Homo sapiens: one gene and its partners. The protein of the gene in region 4 purifies or fractionates together with the protein of the main gene of each other region. This does not show direct contact. Each region holds a gene or a part of one and is shown on either strand. Other genes may lie near its edges.

Evidence for each region.
Region 1: the proteins of TXNL4B (region 4) and RIOK2 purify together in Homo sapiens (affinity purification with western blotting, with the first as the bait; one study listed by BioGRID). This does not show direct contact.
Region 2: the proteins of TXNL4B (region 4) and VWA5A purify together in Homo sapiens (affinity purification with mass spectrometry; one large-scale study listed by BioGRID and IntAct). This does not show direct contact.
Region 3: the proteins of TXNL4B (region 4) and ZMYM4 purify together in Homo sapiens (affinity purification with mass spectrometry; one large-scale study listed by BioGRID and IntAct). This does not show direct contact.

The regions. Positions count from the first base shown.
Region 1 is NC_000005.10:97,168,787-97,174,278, forward strand, and holds part of RIOK2 (serine/threonine-protein kinase RIO2), read right to left. Parts: intron 4,478-5,492; coding exon 4,389-4,477; intron 2,612-4,388; coding exon 2,420-2,611; intron 67-2,419; coding exon 1-66. UniProt on the Homo sapiens protein: Serine/threonine-protein kinase involved in the final steps of cytoplasmic maturation of the 40S ribosomal subunit. Involved in export of the 40S pre-ribosome particles (pre-40S) from the nucleus to the cytoplasm.
Region 2 is NC_000011.10:124,142,278-124,147,769, reverse strand, and holds the end of VWA5A (von Willebrand factor A domain-containing protein 5A), read right to left. Parts: intron 5,329-5,492; coding exon 5,198-5,328; intron 2,534-5,197; coding exon 2,407-2,533; intron 1,905-2,406; coding exon 1,825-1,904; 3' UTR 49-1,824; downstream 1-48. UniProt on the Homo sapiens protein: May play a role in tumorigenesis as a tumor suppressor. Altered expression of this protein and disruption of the molecular pathway it is involved in, may contribute directly to or modify tumorigenesis.
Region 3 is NC_000001.11:35,385,958-35,391,449, forward strand, and holds part of ZMYM4 (zinc finger MYM-type protein 4), read left to right. Parts: intron 1-116; coding exon 117-232; intron 233-1,045; coding exon 1,046-1,321; intron 1,322-1,496; coding exon 1,497-1,647; intron 1,648-2,952; coding exon 2,953-3,125; intron 3,126-3,990; coding exon 3,991-4,141; intron 4,142-5,492. UniProt on the Homo sapiens protein: Plays a role in the regulation of cell morphology and cytoskeletal organization.
Region 4 is NC_000016.10:72,083,521-72,088,644, forward strand, and holds the end of TXNL4B (thioredoxin-like protein 4B), read right to left. Parts: intron 3,283-5,124; coding exon 3,117-3,282; 3' UTR 1,656-3,116; coding exon of another isoform or gene 1,586-1,655; 3' UTR 1,337-1,585; downstream 1-1,336. UniProt on the Homo sapiens protein: Essential role in pre-mRNA splicing. Required in cell cycle progression for S/G(2) transition.

The DNA of each region.
Region 1 (5,492 bases), on a different chromosome or scaffold from region 4:
TCACTTTCGTAGCTGAAACGTTTCATAAAGAAATCTTTAATGCATTTAACATCTCTGTCAAAATACCTGCAAAAGCAAGAATCATTTATGATATAGTCTTTATTGCTCCTCTTTTTCCTTATTAGCCAATGACAATATACTTATTGGTTAATGGTATTGCTCCTCCTTACACAAGGAGATAAAAGATGTTACACAAAAGAAAAAAGATACAAATGAGTTAACCAGTGTGTTTGAAAAACTAAAATCCAAGGAAATCTCAAGGATATAAGCTGTCAATGCCATGCAGTTCCTACGGTTAGGAAAGTCAAGGTTTTGTCATAGTTACTGGTATATAGTTAGATACACTAGGGAAAGATGAATGTGAACCCCAGGAAATAAGATAATGGGCCTATGGTTTGGGGATAGGTTTCCACTTATTCTGTTCGTCCTGAGTCTGGCTATGCTTCTTATCAGCAACACTCACTAGAACCCCTAGCCAACTGAAAGATCTGACGATAAAAAGATATTAATATTAAACAGTTAAGTTTGGAGACTACTGAATTATGTTTATGTATCTTTGTTATCCATTAGCCGATTTGCAATAACACCCAAAGGGATAAATAATGCTACAGCCTATAAAAATAATCTGAGGACATGTTAATCTGGACCAAAAGTAGAACAATATCTGAATATCAGGCTGCCTTTTTGGGCCACCACAAAGCAGCAAAAATGGATTCAATTCTCTAGAAGATTTCCAGACAAGGGAGAATTAAGGACAGGATAATGTGCAATTGACTCTCTTTGAGAAAGATGAAGTTTGGAAATAGGAAGATAATGCCTCTCCTCTTTGCTCACAGGGTACTCTGGGAAAAATACTAATACATTTTAAAAAGACTATTTTATATATGTTTACATCTCCCTACGAGACAGTAACATTTTCTAAAGCATATATAGGGGTTATTTATATCTCAATCTCTAGCAATTAGCACAGCTCCTTGGCCCCAGAACTGGTTCATAAAAATTGAAATTAAATCACAATGTCTCTCCATAGAACGATGCAGCCTAAACCTAGAATGTCATAATCTGTCACACTCTGGAGGCTCCTAGATGTTCCTTTACTGTGTGACTATGTTACTCCTTATTAATAAAAATCATGATTAGTCATCATCCAAAGAGTACTGACCACCCCAGTGCCAGGCATTAATCTTTTAGTATTATTTTGTTGAAAACGTTTTAAAAATTTATTTTCAAATGACATTTCTTTCTGTAGCATAAGTATAGACATTTTCTACTGGAAACCAGGATGAAGAGACGCTTCACTTAACAAAACTACTTCAAGCTCAATCTCTGGAAGAATTAATATACTCTATTATATAAGTGATACTAGTTGTTAGTTTAGGAAAAAAGTTTCTCATAAAGCTTGGAACAGAAAGAAAAAAAAATCCTTAGTTACACTCAATTGAATCATAAACCTCAAGCAAATAAAGGATAAGGTCCTGTTTCATGACTTGGCTGGCTTGGTTTAAATAAGTAATGTGAAGAATATGATTATCGCAGTATATCATGATTCTGCACTGTGTCAGAGATAAAGTTTTATGTGATTTTTTTTCTAATAAATAAAGCTAAAAGTGACAAGAGGTAATTATCACTGGTTTGACAACTGAGTCCAGTCCAAAACCACAACTTTTATTCAGATCATCGAGATTACTGAGTTATACTTGGTGAATCTCTCTTGGAGGCAATCATGGAACAGCAAGAAAAAGGGAAAGACAAAAGTGGTTCTAGAGTTCCCCACTACACTCCCTACTTTTACCTGTTTTAACAATTGGTCTTCCATCTAAAAGTCTGTTTGAACAAAGGGTTCCATGGCTAAGAAAATTTGACTTTTGAACGTCTGTCAATTTACAACAGAGAAATTCAAATTCTTATGGGGAAAACTCTAGTAGTTATACTTTAATAAAAAACCAAATTTTTATAACGTTAACACTAGCCACTTCAAACCAGTGACTGACCTAAATAATAGTATCACAAAATTGAAAAATTATGAAAAAATGATTATATTCTAAACAAACACACCCACATCCAGAATCAATAATAGCATGTAAGGGCCGGGCGCAATGGCTCACCCCTGTAATCCCAGCACTTTGGGAGGCCGAGGCGGGTGGATCACCTGAGGTCAGGAGTTCAAGACCAGCCTGACCAACATGGAGAAACCCCATCTCTACTAAAAAAAAAAATACAAAAAATTAGCCAGGTGTGGTGGCACATGTCTGTTATCCCAGCTCCTCGGGAGGCTGAGGCAGGAGCATTGCTTGAACCCGGGAGGTGGAAGTTGCAGTGAGCCGAGATCGCGCCATTGCACTCCAGCTTGGGCAACAAGCAAAACTCCGTCTCCAAAAAAATAAAATAAAATAAAAATAAAAAAATAGCAAGTACGTACCACTCAGCATTGGGATGAGAAGTTGAAACCATCTGTGGAAAATCAATCATGGTGATATGGTCACTTTCATCCAAAATGAGATTAAATTCATTAAAATCTCCATGAATCAGCCCATGATTTGCAAGTTTGACAATTAGTTCCATAGCTTCATCATATACTGATGCAGGATCTTCAACATGGTGTATCTGACATCTGAAAGTATTTTAAGCATGAAAATAGGTTACTTGTGTTCATTTACGGTTTTAACGAAAGTATGTATGCATGTGAACATATATATTATTTCCATGCTGTGTATCCCCAGCAGCTTTCTTCTCATTCCCATCAGCACACAGATATAATATCTCCCATCTATTAAAAAAATAGCCACACTGCTTCAATTCTGTATCTCTTTTCTACTACTACCTTTCTTTGATCTTTACAGCCAAACTTGTCTACATGTGCTTTTCCAATTTGTTTCCTCCTACTCTCTCATACCATTTCAAACAGGCTTTTTATAACGTTAACACTAGCCACTTCAAACCAGTGAGTGACCTAAATAATAGTATCACAAAATTGAAAAATTATGAAAAAATGATTATATTCTAAACAAACACACCCACATCCAGAATCAATAATAGCATGTACGGGCCAGGCGCAATGGCTCACCCCTGTAATCCTAGCACTTTGGGAGGCCAAAGTGCTTCCAAGATCACCCTTGTTGAGACTACAATGACTTCAATGTTGCTAAATCCAAAGGTCAATTCTTAGTCCTCATCATATGTGGTCTGTCAGTTGACCTCTTTGAACATTTTCTTCACTTAACTCTTGGGACACCATTCTCTCCAGGTGTTCTTCCTTCCTCACAGATCATACCTTCTTAGTCTTTTCTATTTGTACTTCATCTTTTTCCTTGACCTCTAAATTCTGGAGTTCCTCAAAGGTCAATCCTATGACCTTTTATTTTCTCTTATTTAGACTCATTCTTGGTGATCTCATCTAGGTTAATGGTTTAAATACCACATATACACTGATTTTAATGTAGACTTCTCTAACTCCCAGGCATCTCAAACTTAGCATGTCCAAAATGGAATCTCTGATTCTGTCCCACCCTCCAACTCCAAAATGCTGTTCCTGTAGCTTTCCTGTTTCTATACATGGTAGATTTCTCCTTCCAGTTAATTTGCTACTCAGGGGAAAAACCTTGGTGTCACCATTGACTCATCCCTTCCTTCACATCCATATCCAATCTCAAATCATGTTGGTTCAACCTGCAGAACACATTCAGAATCTGACCACTTTTCATCACCTTCACAACTATCACTGTAATCAGAATTACAACCATTTCTTGCCTAGATTATTGTAATAGCCTCTTAACTTGTCTTCCTAATTCTTTGTCTCCCCAGAGTCTATTAATTCAGCAAGCAGAGTGACCCTCTGAAAACACTGAGATCACTGATTGATGAGATCACATCTCTTCTCTGCTCAAAATACTCCCACTCCAATAGCTGCTAATCTGAATCAAAATTTGATGAGGTTTCACCTTATTAGTGAGACTTTTCTTGACCACCCTACATAAAACAGTAGTCTCCTGTCCCGTTAGTACTTCCTATCTCCCTTACTCTGCTTTTTTTTATCCATAGTACTTACTAACAATTGATATACATTTCCTTTAGTTATTTATTGCACATCTCCTTCCATCAGAATGTAAATTCCATGAGGGCAGGGACTTTGTTTTGTTCACTGCTGAGATTAAAAGTTCCTGGCACCTAACAGTCTCTTAATATTGAATGAATGAATGAATCACAGAGATTACAAAGTTCATATTGTCAGAATGAAACTGGGTTTTTAATTTGTCTTTGAGTCTATTCCTTTAAATAAATTTTAACCTCCCAGAGGCAATATTTCATTAACTAAAAAAAATTTTATTAAAAACCCTGAAACTTAAATTCATTTATCAGGATTCATGGCTTTAAGAATAATGAATACTTACAGTGGATAACCATTTATGAGTTCCATGACCACTGCATGACGATTGTAATCAATTGGCTTTGGAACTGGAAATTTCCTCTCATACAATGCCTAAAATGTTGCAAAACAGGTGTAAGCTAATGAACAGGTCATTACTCTTTAAAGAACAATAAAAGTAAATATACCTTTCTACAACCAGAAAAAAAACACACAAACCTTTATAAAATTGTAGTTAACACATGGTTATTTATGCATAGCTTATTTATTCACTGCGTAGAATTAGCCACACATAAAAAGCAAATTTTAAACAAAAGTTTGAATTCACTTTTCCACAAAAAATGAACATTTACAAAATGTTATGCACTGTGCTGGGGTTACAAAAATGAATGTTAAAAAGTTTCTAAACACTCTAAAATTAGTGTCAAAAAGCCCCCAAGAAGCTTACAGTCTCTTAGGGTATATCCTTTCCTATTTTGTAAGTCTCTGACATTTGTTGAAATGTGCTCAAAATATTTAAATTGGAAACAAATTTAGGAAATACTCATCTTCGGACATATTAGGAAATGAGGCATTCTAAGAGATCAGACATTTTGGTTTATAGGGCACTGAACTTTTTCTCCAGGCCACAATATGCAATATAAATCTATTATGTGAAAAATATACACTGTTGTAGTCTGATTCAAGTGTTAAGACTCTCCATACATCTTTTCCCCTAAGCTTACTGTCTTCAATCTTACTGTTTACAAAGCCCTGTTATTACTTTCTTTAAAATACCTTAGATTTATGCCCTTTGACATTTAGAATGCTAGTATTAGGAATGGCAAAAACTGCAATTACTTTTGCACCAACATATACTTGTAAGGAGGCATATACCTCATTACTCCACAAGTGTTCTAGCTCTTGCCATCATACCTAACCTATTCTATGTACCAATACCAGACTAACCTGCTGATGTTAATATTCCATTTAAAAATATATACATTGGGATGGGCATGGAGTCTCACGTCTGTAACCCCAGCAATTTGGGAGGCCGAGGCGGGTGGATCAGTTGAGGTCAGGAGTTCGACACCAGCCTGCCAGCATGGTGAAACCCCATCTCTACTAAAAATACAAAAAAATTAGCCAG
Region 2 (5,492 bases), on a different chromosome or scaffold from region 4:
GTCCTTAAGAAACTATTTTCTGAAATTACATAGGTAGGGCCTATCTAGATGGCAGGCTTGGATATAAGCCTATTTCATGAAAATATTAAGCCTTTACTTTTCAAACTTCAATGTGCATGCATGATACCTGGGAGCCTTGTTAAATAAAGTAGTTCCTGGTATCGATTAAAATTCTGCATTTCTAAAAAGCTGCATTTCTAACAACCCTGTTCCGCAGATCACATTCAGCATAAACAAACTTGGAAGAAAGACTGAGAGATTAGAGTCCACTATGCAAGTCACACAAGTCTTCCTAATACCAGGTAACTCAACAACTTAAAGAAACTCAGGCCTAGTCCACCCACTTTCTGAGTGAAAAGTCACCGATGTTCCTCTAGGAATTCTGAGTGGAACTCGAAAGTGTTAATAAAGTTCTAGTTTAATCCCTTAGTTTTACAGATGAGGATATTAAGTGCCTGAGGGTGAAATCATTTGCCCATCATCACATAACTATTTAAGGGTATGGTCAGGATTCTACAGTGGTATTCTTATTAGTATCCTTTACTTGCTTCATATAAAAGAAGTCAGCCTACAACAGAAGATAGAGGGTCAGGATACCATGGGAACAGTGGAGGCATCAGAAAAGCTGGAACAGAAAACAAGGGACAATAAAACCAATGTAAGTTCAATAAATGAATCTATGGAGGAGTAGACCTCTTGCTAAGCTTTTTTTCCCTACTAAGTTTTATTTCACTAACTTCAGGTCAAATTTCCACAACTGTGTTCCGGTCAATTTACTATCCTAGTTTGGCTTCCCAAAGTGGCAGTACCAAAATATTGTGGGGTAGGGAGACGAGACCACTTTAAGAACCACTGCATTTACTCATCAAAGGGTAGAAATAGTCATTTTAATATTGATACAAGTTATTTTAAGGGACAGCATATCAAATAGGGTCATTTCCACCAGGATAGGGTATATGAGACACAAGGGTCAGGAACGATTACGGGGAGCTCCTTTCTTCCTAATGCGGTAAGTGCTCCAGGTTCAGGTCCCAGGCAAAGCTCCCATTAAGCCCACCCTTCCCTTTACTGCACTAGATCAGGGCCTGACTTAGAGGACACATAGGTTCAGGGTAGGACTAAGGATTGCATTATAGACTTCTTAAGGTGTTTCATGATTAAAGAGGAACATCTCTCTCCAACAGTTATAGTTCAACCCAAGTCTTTCAGGCAGTGGAAGAAAAGACATGTAGGTTGTACAGGCTAGCAAAGCCCAAGAAGAATGAATCAGGAAGGTCCCCAACAGTGTCACCTCTCACAGTGGACCCCTGCAGTCTCTGTCTTTGTGATCTTGACATTACATTGATCCAGATGTTGGCTTTCAACTTCCCTCTAACTCCTCCTACGCAAGCTTACCAGTATGGCCCTGATAAGTATATAAGATAGAAAGTGAACAGACAAAGATAATGCAGAAAATTCTCTAATTCAAGCATTCTCTAACATAAATGCTGCAATCTTTAGTCTGTAGTTCATGTCACCTGTTTTTCATGTTGTTTCCCTGGAAACCCTGGGAGGAACATTACTGCCTATGAATGTTTTGAACTCCCTCAAGAAAGGGAATAGGTTCTGGGACCACTGTCACTTTTCTGAGGGCATATGTTGGGAAAAGAAAGATCATATCCAAAGTGAACCTGGAGCAGAGAAGCGAAGTGGAGTAAGCATCCTTTACTTTTATGGCAAAAAATAAAGAGTTATAATACACAAGAACACATCATCACAGCAAAAGTGATACTAGAGGAAATGACAGTAGCAAATTAAAGGCACTTCTTTTTCTGGATGGTATCTTCAAAAGGCAAAGATAGCAGGATCCACAGATGACTTCAGGAAAGTAATAGCAGCTTTCACAACCGAAGGCATGGTGGAGCCTGTGGTGAGGAAAAACAAGAAGCAGGGATGAAGGATTGCAATTAGAGGCTCCTCCAAACCTCCCAGATCATCTACCCTGAGTTGTGCTTTTATCTGTCCTCAATATCCCTGCTTTTTCTTTTCTTGCTACCCAGATTCTCCTTGAATCTTCTCTGGCCCCAGATACACTCAGCTGCAGTGAGATAACAAACAGCCAGGAGAACACGCACCAAGTCTAGTCTTCTACTCAGCTTGGTACTGAGACAGTAAGGAGAATCAATGCCACTTGTCCTTCTCACAGTTCACACTCCCCATTTGTGTCCCTCTCCCTCCCTACTCACCCACCTACCTTGTCCCCAATTTAATATTTCACCCTTGTCCTCCCAAGAAAAGAACTAGCAGAAAGATTAGTAAAGATCTGAAGCAGGATGGTGGAGGCAGGTGACAATGGGACTCTCTTGTGGTCACCTTCCGCCAGGCCAGGGAAGGGGAAGGAGACAGGCCTTAGGATTGTGCTCCTACCTGCATGGGCACGCATCCAGGCCACGGCCTTCCTTTCCAGAAGCTCCCATTCACACTTCAAGTCCTTACCATTGCTGTGCAGCCAGATCACGGCCAGGATGGTGGCCCAGCCTGAGGAATCCACAAGCTGCACAGTAGATAGAGAGCTCCAGTTGGCACAGGAAGTCCCTCAAAAGGATGCAAAAAGCTTCACTCCCTCCTCACTTAGCATCCTTCTAAATGTCACTAGATGGAGTTACCTGGTCTCTCTTTACCTCCAGATACTACTTGCAAGGCATAATGCCAGGCCTTAAACCTCAGGGCAGCAATCCATTGAGTCTCGAAATAGAAAATCCTAAGTTTTAAATCCAGTGTAACCACCAGGACGGTTCTGGAAACCCCTAAGACAAGGCCAGCTCTAGTAAGAGAAACACAGGCAAAACTGCTTTATAGTTTATAAAGAACCTTCATAAGTTTTTTTTAATTGTAACCCTTATACCCCCCCACCAAAGAAATCATGAAAAAATATCAATAAACATTTTTAAGAAAGAAAACTGATTTCATATAGAAGTATTAACAAAATGATTTGCTCAAACTTAGCTGTCTAGCAAACGACAGAAGTGAGACTAAAGGCCAAATATTCTGACTCTAGTTATATTCTCTTATTTCTCAATAGAAAATCTCAGCCATGCAGCAGAAAATTGTCTCCCATGAGTTTTCGCTCACTGCTCCCAGCTTCAGCTTTCAGAGTCAGGAGATCAAGGGAAATTCCTATTTTATATCATGACTTTTAAAACTTGGAAATGGCTATCATGTCCTCTCTGAGTGGTCTTATTTCAGATTAGAATTCTCAATTCCTCCATTTCTTCCTTAAGAGGACTGCTTATGTCAAAGCAGTAAGCATCCCCACGCTTGTTCTCCTAGTCTAAAAACAAACAGCGTAATGATTTTAAAAATATATCTCCTTAAATGGTCTATCTGGAGGTAAATGTACTTATAGAATTCTACAATCACAGCCCATTTCAGGTAACCCTGTTGTCCTCCATTTCTTAGTTAAATATTCTGATTCACACAGTTGTAGTCATCTAAAACCTCTGATTTTCATGTGCAAATGCTCTCTTCTCTACCTGTAGAGTTGGGAATTTGGAACCCAAAACAGTACTTAGCTTTTATTCCTACTATGTTGTTTTTCTTTTTTTTTAATGAAAAGTTGCAACTCATTGTTCAGAGGTTTTTTGGGATCCTGATTCTTTTGACTGATAGTTTATCTCCCAGTTTTGTCATCTACAAATAGGAAAGTCTTGGTCTTTATCTTCATCTAAATCTTCATTGAAACTGTGGACCTCCAGAGAATTCAGAGCCTGGTGGGTCTAAAAATCTGTTTCATGTTTGAAATCAATTCATCATTCAGCGCCATAGGTTTTCAACTAATTTGTACTTGGTCCATGTTCTCATCATTAAAAAAAAAATCAAATTCCTTACTGAAATTCAGATATACCAGGTCTGTTGGTTCACTTGATTCATTGGCCTGGTTACCATTCCAAAGAAGGAAATGTCAGTCTGAAGTTTTTTGTTCCCAGTGCATCTAATAATCCCTGTATCCTCTTCCAAGTGTGTATGAATTATCATCTTAATTACTTTTCTAGAACAGCATTTTCCAATAAAAATATAATGCTAGAAACATATGTAATTTTAAATTTTCTGGTAGCCAAATTTTAAAAAGTAAAAGAGGTATAATTATTTTACTGATATATTTTATTTAACCCAATCTATTAAAAAGTCATCATTTTAACATGCAATCAATATAAAAATAATTATTGATGAAATGTTTTATTCCTTTTTATAAAAGTCTTTGCAATTAGTATGTATTTCCCACCATAGCACACCTCTATTGAATTAAAAATTCAGTTCCTCATTTGTATTAGCCACGTTTCAAAGGCACAATAGCCACATGTGACTAGTGGATACTGTATTGGACAGTGGAATTGCAGAATATCTGAAATTTATTTGATCTCCTTCCACATTTTGAAAGTTTAGAATGATATTTGTCCTTCAGGCTTTTTGCACCTGTCTCATGCCTAACAACTTCTCAATGAGCGTTAGAAGATTTTGTAAGTTACCTTGAAATTCTGGAATGCAATTTATCCTTATCAGCATATTTAAATACATCTGAAACAACTAGGTGGTTCCTAGTAACAACACTTTACCTATCCTGACTTCAGTTAACTTTTGCCAATGTCTGGACCACTTTCATCGGTATGAAGAGGAGCAATAATGAGGTTATTATTGGGGGTTCTCAAGACAGATACTCTTAGAACTGAATCTGGCTCTGCCACTGATGGGCTAGGTAAACTCAGACACATTTTTAGACCTCCCTGAACTTCAGTTTCTTCATCTATAAACAGCAACACAAATGGGATCTACCTTATTAAATTAATGTGTGAAATAAATAAGCTCATGAATATTAACTGCTTAGCACAGTGCTTGGCACAGAGTAATTGCTCACTAAGTATTAGTTACATAACCAAGATGATTGGCAGGGAATACGATTAAAGTGGAAGAGGATTTTTGCTTTCCCTTTGTCATCCACCAGCAAAAAAAACCCCATCAATTCCTACTAGCTTCCCCATTAATCCCTTGATCTTTCTGCTCTAACATGACTGGAAAAACCTTCAGCCTCTATTTATTACAAATTAATTTAGTCTATGACCCCCTATATTTTCCTTCCTCAGGTAGGTCCTGAATCACCTCAATTCTCAATGATGACCTCTCTCTCAAAAACATACATACTCCTTTTTCCATTGAATCTTACCTCGGCAGGCTGTGCAGCCATTATTTCTTCCAAACTCATACCTAGGATCTTGGCTAGATCTTCATTCAGATCCCAGGAACCATTTGCATTTTGGTGGTAAATCAGCTGCACAAGGTGATTCTCTCCAAAGCCTTTGAGGAGAAAGAAAAGAGAAGAATGAGAAATTGTGGAGCTATCGGCACCTCAGCACACTTGAATTTAGGGCTGCTAAATTCAGAGACAGGCCATAGCAAGAATGCAATAGAAAGAAAGTCATCAGACAACATCCAGAAGATCGGTCTTCAAACCCTACTTG
Region 3 (5,492 bases), on a different chromosome or scaffold from region 4:
CCTACAACTTACCCTGGCTCTTAAATTTTCTTATATTGTATAGTATTATTTAATTTCTCATACTTTTGTGTACATTTGTACATATTACTCATTGGTTTTTATTTTGATTTGCTAAGGTGTACAAGTTCAGTGTAACAGTTGTAAAACCTCAGCAATTCCTCAGTATCACCTAGCCATGTCAGATGGAAGTATACGCAACTTCTGCAGCTACAGCTGTGTGGTAGCTTTCCAGGTATGGCTTCAGGAACCTTCCTCTTCTTCAGTCAGTGAGTCACCTACTGTATGAGTCTGTTCTTGCACTCCTCTAAAGAAATACCCTAGACTGGGTAATTTATAAAGAAAGAGGTTTAATTGGCTCACAGTTCCACAGGCTGTACAGGTAGCATGGCTGGAGAGGCCTCAGGAAACTTTCAATTATGGCGGAAGGCGAAGGGGAAGCCGGCACGTCTTACATGATGGGCTCAAGAGGAAGAGAGAGAAGCGGGAGGTGCTACACTTTTAAACAACCAGATAGTGAGAACTCACTATCACCAGAACAGCAGGGGAGAAATCCACCCCCATGATCCAGTCACTTCCTGCCAGGCTCCTCCCCCAACATTGGGGATTACCGACTGGACATGAGATTTGGGCAGGGACACGAATTCAAACCTATCACCTACTATAGTAATGCACATTTATTAGGTGTTTGCTAGGGCCTGGGTTGTATAAGTTTCTATATCATTCCTATTAAACTTGGATTTGTAGTTCATTCTGTATTTGGAATTTAATTTAACTGCCTTCTATAAAATTGAATGGTACTTTTATCACCCATATTATCTATTGGGAGGATATTATTTTTGAGGAAGATTATTAGTTAAGTTATTTTATTTTTTCATCATAAATGAGACTCCCCCCATTCCGTAATAAGCTGCTCAGAGGCAGGAACATTGCCTGTTAACAGATGTACCTTACATGCCTAGAACGGTGCTTGGCATATGTAGGCACACAATACTTCTTTGTTTTAACAAAGATTAAATTGATACTTTTTGTTGTTTTGTTTTTCCAGAATTTATTCAACAAACCAACTGGAATGAATTCTTCAGTAGTGCCCTTGTCTCAGGGCCAAGTAATTGTAAGCATCCCCACAGGTTCCACAGTGTCAGCCGGAGGAGGTAGCACATCTGCTGTTTCTCCCACCTCCATCAGTAGCTCTGCTGCAGCTGGTCTCCAGCGTCTCGCTGCCCAGTCCCAGCATGTTGGGTTTGCACGAAGTGTTGTGAAACTCAAATGTCAACACTGTAACCGTCTTTTTGCCACAAAACCAGAACTTCTTGACTATAAGGTAAAGTATAGCATGTTCATGATAAGATTTTGAGTATACGTGGGTCTATTTGTAAAATTATTTTTAACTTTGCATCTCTCAAAATCATACCATTTGTTTTGAAAGTAAGGGAGATAAGGAGTTCCATAAGACAAACCAAATGTTTAATTAGTACTTAATGATTATTTCTTTGCAGGGCAAAATGTTTCAGTTCTGTGGCAAGAATTGTTCTGATGAATATAAGAAAATAAATAATGTAATGGCAATGTGTGAATATTGTAAAATTGAGAAAATTGTAAAGGAGACTGTTCGGTTCTCAGGTGCTGACAAGTCATTCTGTAGTGAAGGTAAAGACAGAAGATTATCTTACCTACTGAGCATGTTGGTTGTTTTAAAGCAGTTGATGATGATTTAAGCTTTCACTGTCTAAGTTAATCTGTTTTATTGTTTATGTATAACGTAAATGCCTTTTCGATTCATTTACACTTAGTTCATTCTTTTTTGATCTAGTTTTCTTATATTATGTAGCTGTTAAAATGAAGTGAAAGATTTGCAAAGTATAATGCAGAAGAAGATGATGTGAAAAACATTTAACATCCTTAGGTTCCCCATTATTAGGTTGATCGGGACCTCAAAGAGCTTCTAGTTCGTGTACTTATTTCTAAATGGGATGCCTTAAATTATGGTAACATTCTAAGTTTATACTTTTATTGTCTTAAACAGCCATTATATTTCTGAATATAAATGGCTTGAATATGCAAATTAATATGTGGAAGATTGTTTTCCTTAGATAACTCTTCTATATGTTTATAATGTTTTATTTTACTCTAAAGCTGTATTAGCCTTCTAGAGCAAGGGCTTTCAAACCTTTTGATAACACCAAAGAAGAAATACATTTACACTGTGACCCAGTATATTTTCACATACCTAAATAAAAGTTTTTTTTGTTTTTGTTTTTGTTTTTTGAGACAGAGTCTTGCTTTGTCACCCAGGCTGGAATGCCATGGAGCGATCTTGGCTCACTGCAACCTCTGCCTCCTGGGTTCAAGCGATTCTCCTGCCTCAACCTCCCGAGTAGCTGGGACTACAGGCACCCGCCACCACACCTGGCTAATTTTTGTATTTTTAGTAGAGACAGGGCTTCACCATGTTGGCCAGGCTGGTCTCCAACTCCTGACCTCAGGTGATCCACCCACTTTGGCCTCCCAGAGTGCTGGGATTACAGGTGTGAGCCACTACGCCCAGCCCCAAAAGTTTCATGAAATAAAATCGATGCAGTTTAATATTTTCTCTTCTGTGCTATCCTGTCTTATATCATTTAAAACAAAAACAAAAACAAAGCAAAACAAAAACTAGTATAGATACTCTAAAAAATCAAGATACTCTGTGAACTGGTCAGGACCCAAGTGTGAAAACTTTGTCCTAGACCACTTATTTTTCTTTTTTTTGTTTTTGTTTTTATTTGACATGGGGTCTTGCCATGTTGCCCAGGCTGGTCTCAAACTCCTGGGCTCAAGCACTCCTCCCGCCAGCCTCCCAAAGTGTTGGGATTACAGGTGTGAGCCACTGCACCGGGCCTGTCCTAGGCCATTTAAAGTTGCAGAAAACTAATACTTCTACCTAATGTTAATTTTATCTTTCCTGATTTTTAGGTTGCAAATTGCTTTATAAACATGACTTGGCAAAACGCTGGGGAAATCACTGTAAAATGTGCAGTTATTGTTTACAGACATCTCCCAAATTGGTACAGAATAATTTAGGAGGGAAAGTGGAAGAGTTCTGTTGTGAAGAATGCATGTCCAAATATACAGTTTTGTTCTATCAGGTAAATAGAATTCACATTCCTGGGTTTTTCATTCTAGGGCATAAATTATTCCCTTTTAAAATTTCATGTCACATAAAGGACAATTTAATTATTTAAAACTTTTAAGTATTAAATGTTTTATGCCTTCTAGCAATTAATATAAGATTTAGAAAGACTTTAATGTTATTGAAGTTTTCTTTTGTTTTTAATTTCCTGTAGGAGACATATCAGTCTTAAGACATTAAAATATTTAAACTTATAATTTTATTCACTTATTATTTAAATAAAGTGAATTTGTCTTCTGAAGTCTGAGGAAGATAGACCTTATTTTTATTTCACTTTGTTTTTTAATTGCTATAGAGTGAAGTCTGTATGTTACATGTGTTTTTTAAAAAAAATTAGTATAAAATCAGCTGGGCGCGGTGGCTCACGCCTGTAATCCCAGCACTTTGGGAGGCCGAGGCGGGTGGATCATGAGGTTAGGAGATCGAGACCATCCTGGCTAACATGGTGAAACCCCGTCTCTACTAAAAATACAAAAAAATTAGCTGGGTGTGGTGGCGGGCGCCTGTAGTCCCAGCTACCTGGGAGGCTGAGGCAGGAGAATTGCATGAACCCAGGAGGTGGAGCTTGCAGTGAGCTGAGATCACGCCACTGCACTCCAGCCTGGGCGATAGAGCAAGGCTCTGTCTCAAAAAAAAAAAAAAATATATATATATATGTGTGTGTGTGTGTGTGTGTGTGTGTATAATCATTGATAAAGACAAACTAATTTTTTGATCTAAATTCTAAGTTAATTTCGTCACTTGTTATGTGTGTCTTATTTTTATTTTGTCAGACCACAGATAATTTGTTTCTTACTCCTTGACTACCTTCTTCTTTTTAGATGGCCAAATGTGATGCTTGTAAGCGACAGGGTAAACTCAGTGAGTCCTTGAAATGGCGAGGGGAAATGAAACATTTCTGTAACCTGCTTTGTATCTTGATGTTCTGTAATCAGCAAAGTGTATGTGACCCGCCTTCACAAAATAATGCAGGTAAAATTAACCTTAGGTACTGAATGGAGTCTTTGGTCAATACTAGGAACTACTGTTCTTTTACAGATCAGGAACTGTGTAAACAGTTGTCATTAATTTCATGAAACCTCAGTTTCCTTGTATTCTGTATCAATAACATTTAGCTTTTTTTGTTGAACACCTTATTTCACTGTCGTCCGTGTGAAGAGACCACCAAACAGGCTTTGTGTGAGCAACAAGGCTGTTTATTTCACCTGGGTGCAGGCGGTCTGAGTCTGAAAAGAGTCAGTGAAGGGAGATGGGGTGGGGCCGTTTTATAAGATTTGGGTAGGTAAAGGAAAAAGGGGGGTTGTTCTCTGGCGAGCAGGAGTGGGGGTCACAAAGTGCTCAGTGGGGGAGCTTTTTGAGCCAGGATGAGCCAGGAAAAGGAATTTCACAAGGTAATGTCATCAGTTAAGGCAGGAACAGGCCATTTTCACTTCTTTTGTGTTGGAATGTCATCAGTTAAGGCAGGAACCGGCCATCTGGATGTGTACCTGCAGGTCAGAGGGGATATGATGGCTTAGCTTGGGCTCAGAGGCCTGACACCTTAGATTAAAGCTGAGTAAAAATGAGTTTTTGATTAAATAGATTTCTTTGAGAATATTGAATCAAATAAACTCTGTAAGAACTTAAATTTATGGGAAAGGATAACAGTTAATGGTTTGTAATTGAGTATAATTGGCTTCCTTAAAAAATCCTTTGAGACTACTTATAACAAAAGACATAAAGTCAAAATCACATGGCCTTTTAAATATACCATGTGCAGGCCAGATGTGATGGTTCATGCCTGTAATCCCACCGCCTTTGGAATGCTGAGGTGGGAGGACGGCTTGAGGCCAGGAGTTCAGGGGTGGAGTGAGCGGTGACCACAGCACAGCAATCCCAGCTGGATGATATAGTGAGACCCTGCCTCTAAAAAATTAAAATAAAATAAAACTATATGTCGTGGGCGTGACTAGTTGGGGCCAGTGTCACGGGCTGTAAAGGAATTTACCAAGACAGTCATAGGTAAAGGCAGATTTATTGGAGAAAGTGTGAAAATATGTTGCAAGGTTGCAGTGAGCAGCACAGCAGAGAAGGGGAAGTCTGCAAAGACGCAGCGGCTTGAGGGACGTTTTACATGGTCCTGCTGGAGGGGACTGCTTGCAGAATGTAGCCGTGCTCCTGGGGCTACCTGTAGGAGGTCATCTCTCAGAGTAATTACTCATTGTTCTCCCCCACCTGGGCCCCTTCCTCTTTGTTGCTTACTTACCTTGTCAGGACTTACTTATCTTATCAGGACTACACACTATGTGCTAGGCCACTTTATCTCAGAAAATTTATTATTTAA
Region 4 (5,124 bases):
ATGCTGCCAAATAATTGGAGCAGCACTTGCACTCTAATCCAACTGGCCATCTCTTTCACCCTGGCATTTCATCAGTCCGACAAAAAGTCACCCTCTTGGGAAGAAAGAGAAGCTCCTCAAGGGTCTTTTGACCCCCATGTCTATATAGAGGCAATTGGAGTACCACGAGTAGCCGCCAATGAATTTAAAGCTCGAAATCAAATAGCTGCCAGGTTTGAGTCAGTCTTATTTTGGTGGTCTACTATAAACAAAAACGTAGACTGGATAAACTATATATATTACAATCAACAAGGATTTGTTAATTATACCAGAGATACCATTTGGGGATAGCCGAGCAATTTGGTCCCACCAGCCAAATGGCCTGGGAAAACAGGATAGCTCTTGACATGACATTAGCAGAAAACGGCAGAGTTTGTGTAATCATCAGAGCCCAATGTTGTACTTTGATCCCAAATAACACAGCTCCCGATGGAACCACTACCAAGGCTCTACAAGGCCTCACCACCCTAGCAAATGAGCTGGCTGAAAATTCTGGAATAGATGACCCCTTCACAGGTTTAACCAAAAGATGGTTTGGTAAATGGAAAGGACTTATGGCCTCTATCCTCACTTCCCTTGCCATTGTTACAAGTGCACTCATCCTTGTAGGCTGTTGCATCACACCTTGTGTTTGTGGGTTAGTTCAAAGACTCATAGAAATGGCTTGCACTAAAACCTTCTCTGTCTCTCCCCCTCCATATTCAGACCAACTTTTACTCCTAGACAATCAAGAAGAGCAACAAAGCCAAATCTTACTAAAATAATTTGAAGAGGAAGAATTATAACAACAAAAAGGGGGAAATTGTCAGAATAAAAGAAAGGTTCCTCTTCAAAGATCCAACTTTCTTGTCATAGGCTGTAAACCGCCTTGCTCCAAACCTTAACCTGTAACCTTTACCCTCTGCCTTATTTGAGAAAGATTCAAGCGCATAGCCAATTGGAGTCAGCCTAGACTGTGCGGTCCAACCCCAGCCAATGGGGGAAAGACAAAGAAGCAGGAACTGCGTTAGGGTTAGAAACCTGTTCTCCTTTGTTAGGTGTGCTTTTGCGACTGCTATAGGCGCGGGCAGCACCCTTCTGCAGAAGTAAACTTTGCCTTGCTGAGAAACTTTTCTTCTGAGTGCTCCTCTTCCTCTGCGGCACTCAGAAATAAGAGAACTTATTTCTAACAGGAGGAAGAAGACATGATAATTTTGCACACGCAGGTTCTGAGTTTTGGCTGGTGCGCTGAGTGCTTACCATACCGCAAATACTGTGTGATCTGGGCTGAAGAACAGAAAACCCAACTAACAGTGACTTAGGCAAAAAGAAATTTTATTCTTTCACAGAAGTCTGAGGCAGGCAGGTCCAGAGTTCATGCAGGAGCTCAATAACATCAGAGATTGGGCTCTTTTTGTTCTTCTTAGCATATCGATGTTTTACGTGATGCTGGGCACCTCGGGGACCTAAGATGGCTGTTGTAGCTCCATGCATCATGATTAAACCAGAGACAGGAAGTGTACGATGGAAGAGGCCAGAGGTGATGGCCTCCTCCTCTCCTTTTGTCTTATTCCTGGAGTGACTCCCTCCTCTTATCAGCAGGGATACAAGCAGTGCCTGGCAGCCTTCCCTCTCTCCTGTATGAGCCAAAAGCAAGACTCATGGCACCCCTCCCTGCAGGAAAGGGGTGGAATGGAGCCCCTGGCAAAGGGGGCTGGACTTGCAGTGACAGTGCTGCTCTGAACAGGACTAGGCTTCTGTTGGAGAGGTGGTCAGCGGCTGCTAGGCAGGTCACAAGCTGCCTCACCCATGGCTCTCCAGCTCTGCACCTACCCTCTCCTTCTAATAAATCTGTTTCAATAACCACCACGAGGTTTAAAGAGGAGCAGTAACTTGCCCACGGTTGCGCCAGGCACCCCTAGAAGAGCAAGAATTCCTTACAAAGTTATTAAAACAGGCAAATCCCATATAGGTGACATTTCTATCCAACAATGCTGACATCTCTTTTAGTTTTGAGCCTTAGTAATCCAATTTTCTGCCTCAGGAAGAGGCAGCAGCTTCTGGGAAAAATCTGCTCCTGCTAAGGTGGCTCATTCATTGTTTTACCTGAATAGAGTGGTGGATGGTGAAGGTTCAAATTCTCACTTTCCATATTAAATTTTATAACATAAAAAATAATTAAATGGGGTGCGCGCGGTGGCTCACGCCTATAATCCCAGCACCTGGGAGGCTGAGGAGGGCAGATCACGAGGTCAGGAGATCGAGACCATCTTGGCTAACACGGTGAAACTGCGCCTCTATAAAAATACAAAAAATTAGCTGGGCATGGTGGCGGGCGCCTGTAGTCCCAGCTACTCAGGAGGCTGAAGCAGGAAAATGGCATGAACCCAGGAGGTGGAGCTTGCAGTGAGCCGAGATCGCGCCACTGCACTCCAGCCTGGGTGACAAGAGTGACTCGGTCTCAAAAAAAAAAAAAAAAATTAAATGAGCCAACCAGGACAATGTTTAAAAGCCAGAGCCAAAAAGGCTCCAAAATAAAACAAACTTGTCTGCTCAATTAATTATTTGAAGAGAACCTACAGTAATACAGACTGGAGATGGGAAAGCACGAGGGATGTATGAGTCGAGGAACCGGCAAAGGGGTGTGGGGGTGTGTGTGTGTGTGTGTGTGCACACACATGCACCCAGCTAGGGTAGAAAATAAGTACTTTTGCTTCTATGGGAAGTGACTTTCCAGTTCACTTGTGTATCAAATGAACATGATGAAATCAAGTTGTACTAGCCAATGTTTGGGAGGGTTCTGTATTAAAGGGATAAAGAAAAACATTAGAAAGAGAAGTTACAAAAATCACTGTGGGGAAAATGAACACCAATGACTTGGCTGCTCTGAGGCTTGCAGGGAGTAGACAGTTAGGCATCCCAGGTCATCAGAGAACCAGTGGGGTCTTTTCCTCAGGGGCCGGGTTTTCTACACGCAAGTCAAACCTCTTCTCCTCTGGGACACATGTTTCCAAAGGACTCCAGAAACACAGCACAGCTGGATTCAGGTACTGTGTCAAGATGTGCCTTCTTCTTCATCTTTGACAGCAATTAATGTACTAAATGTCTTGATAGAGAAGGTCATATTTGGGAATATTCTTGGGATCAATAGGACTTTGGACAATAAGCTTCCCCCTCATTGCTCCTCGATAGATTACTTCAATCAAATCTATGAAGTCTTGTTTGGTTTTGAAGCTTCCCACAAACTTAGTGTGATCTGGAGATCTAGACAGCATAGAAGAGAAACAACTGCTCTAAGAACTTTGAGTAATCACTTGTTGAAGACTTTCAGGATAAACAAAATGAAAAACAGCTTTGTTATTTTCTTCTTGTCAATGAGACTTCAGAAATAAAGCCCAACATTAATTTTTCAATCATTTTTTTCCATTTAGTAAATGACTCAACCCAGTGCTGTGGGCCACTAGCATGAAAGCTCTGTCATGTGCAAAGCTTTAGCTTCAAAAGCTATTGTAATCACAAAATCTATTTTTATCACTTCTCAAATCATCAAGCAGATTTCACCAAGTGTTGGAGTGCACATTGTTTCTTCGTTTGCTGTTGTTGCTTTTGCCTGGGCATTGTGCAAAGCCCATTCAATATTCATGGCCTTTTGAGTGGTAGGTATTAAAAAATTGATTTTTTAGAAAAGTATCTCAAACACCAGGTATGTTACTGTAAAAATTTTAAAGAAATAAATAAAATCACGGATGAGGCCAGAGGTCACTTTTCAGTGTCTATCCTTCCAATCTTGTGTGTGTGTGTGTGTGTGTGTGTGTGTGTGTGTGTGTGTGTATGTGCAGATACAAACTTCTTTTTTCCCAACATTGGGAATTATGTCATACAAATTATTCAGTAATATGCTTTTTTCTAGCTGACATATATTTCTTTCATTTGTTAAATGTGCATCTGCAACATCATATTAAAGTCCTGGAAGTGTAATTACTGGGTTAAAAAGTTTAAAAACTTTAAACTATTTGATACATAATGTTGAACTGGCCCCCATAAAAGGTTGTACCAAATTAATACTTACATCAAATGTGTTCCAGTAGAATAAACAGCTTTAAAATACTTTTGTGTTTTTTTTTTGTTGTTGTTGTTGTTGTTTTGCGATGGAGCCTTGCTCTGTCACCAGACTGGAGTGTAGTGGTGCGTTCTCTGCTCACTGCAACCTCCACCTCCTGGGCTCAAGCGAATCTCCTGCCTCAGCCTCCTGAGTAGTTGGGATTACAGGCACCCACCATCATGCCTGGCTAATCTTTTTTTTGAGACGGCAGCTCTGTTGCCCAGGATGGAGTGCAGTGGCGCGCTCTCGGCTCACTGCAAGCTCCGCCTCCTGGGTTCATGCCATTTTTCTGCCTCAGCCTCCAGAGTAGCCGGGACTACATGCGCCCGCCACCACGCCCAGCTAATTTTTTGTATTTTTAGTAGAGACAGGGTTTCACTGTGTTAGCCAGGATGGTCTCGATCTGCTGACCTCATAATCTGCCTGCCTCGGCTTCCCAAAGTGCTGGGATTACACGCGTGAGCCACTGCGCCTGGCCATGCCTGGCTAATTTTTGTATTTTTAGTAGAGATGGGGTTTCACTATGTTGGCCATGCTGGTTTTGAACTCCTGACCTCAAATGATCCGCCTGCCTTGGCCTCCCAAAGTGCTGGGATTACAGGCGTGAGCCACTATGCCCAGCCTAAAACACTTTAAAACAGATAATATTTCACATACTTTCAAATAAAGACAAAAAGGGTACACAGATCTAGATAAGTGGACACATCAACCACAGTAAGAAATGATCAGAATCATGGATGCACCCAATCATCAATATTAAGTATTGAGATGGTAATTGGATGGAGTGGAAGGCACTAAAGAGGACATCATGTTACTTATTCTTGACAGGCTTTGTTGAAGAATGATTTAAAATTCAATGGCGAAAAGCAGGAAACTTTGCAAGAGAGAAGCACATCTTAGTTTGCTAGAAGGAATGTTTCTTTCATAAATGCCACTTACCAGTCCAAAAGCTTAAGAAAAACTACATGTTTTGTTTCAAATGAAATTCCTGGGAAAATTTTAAG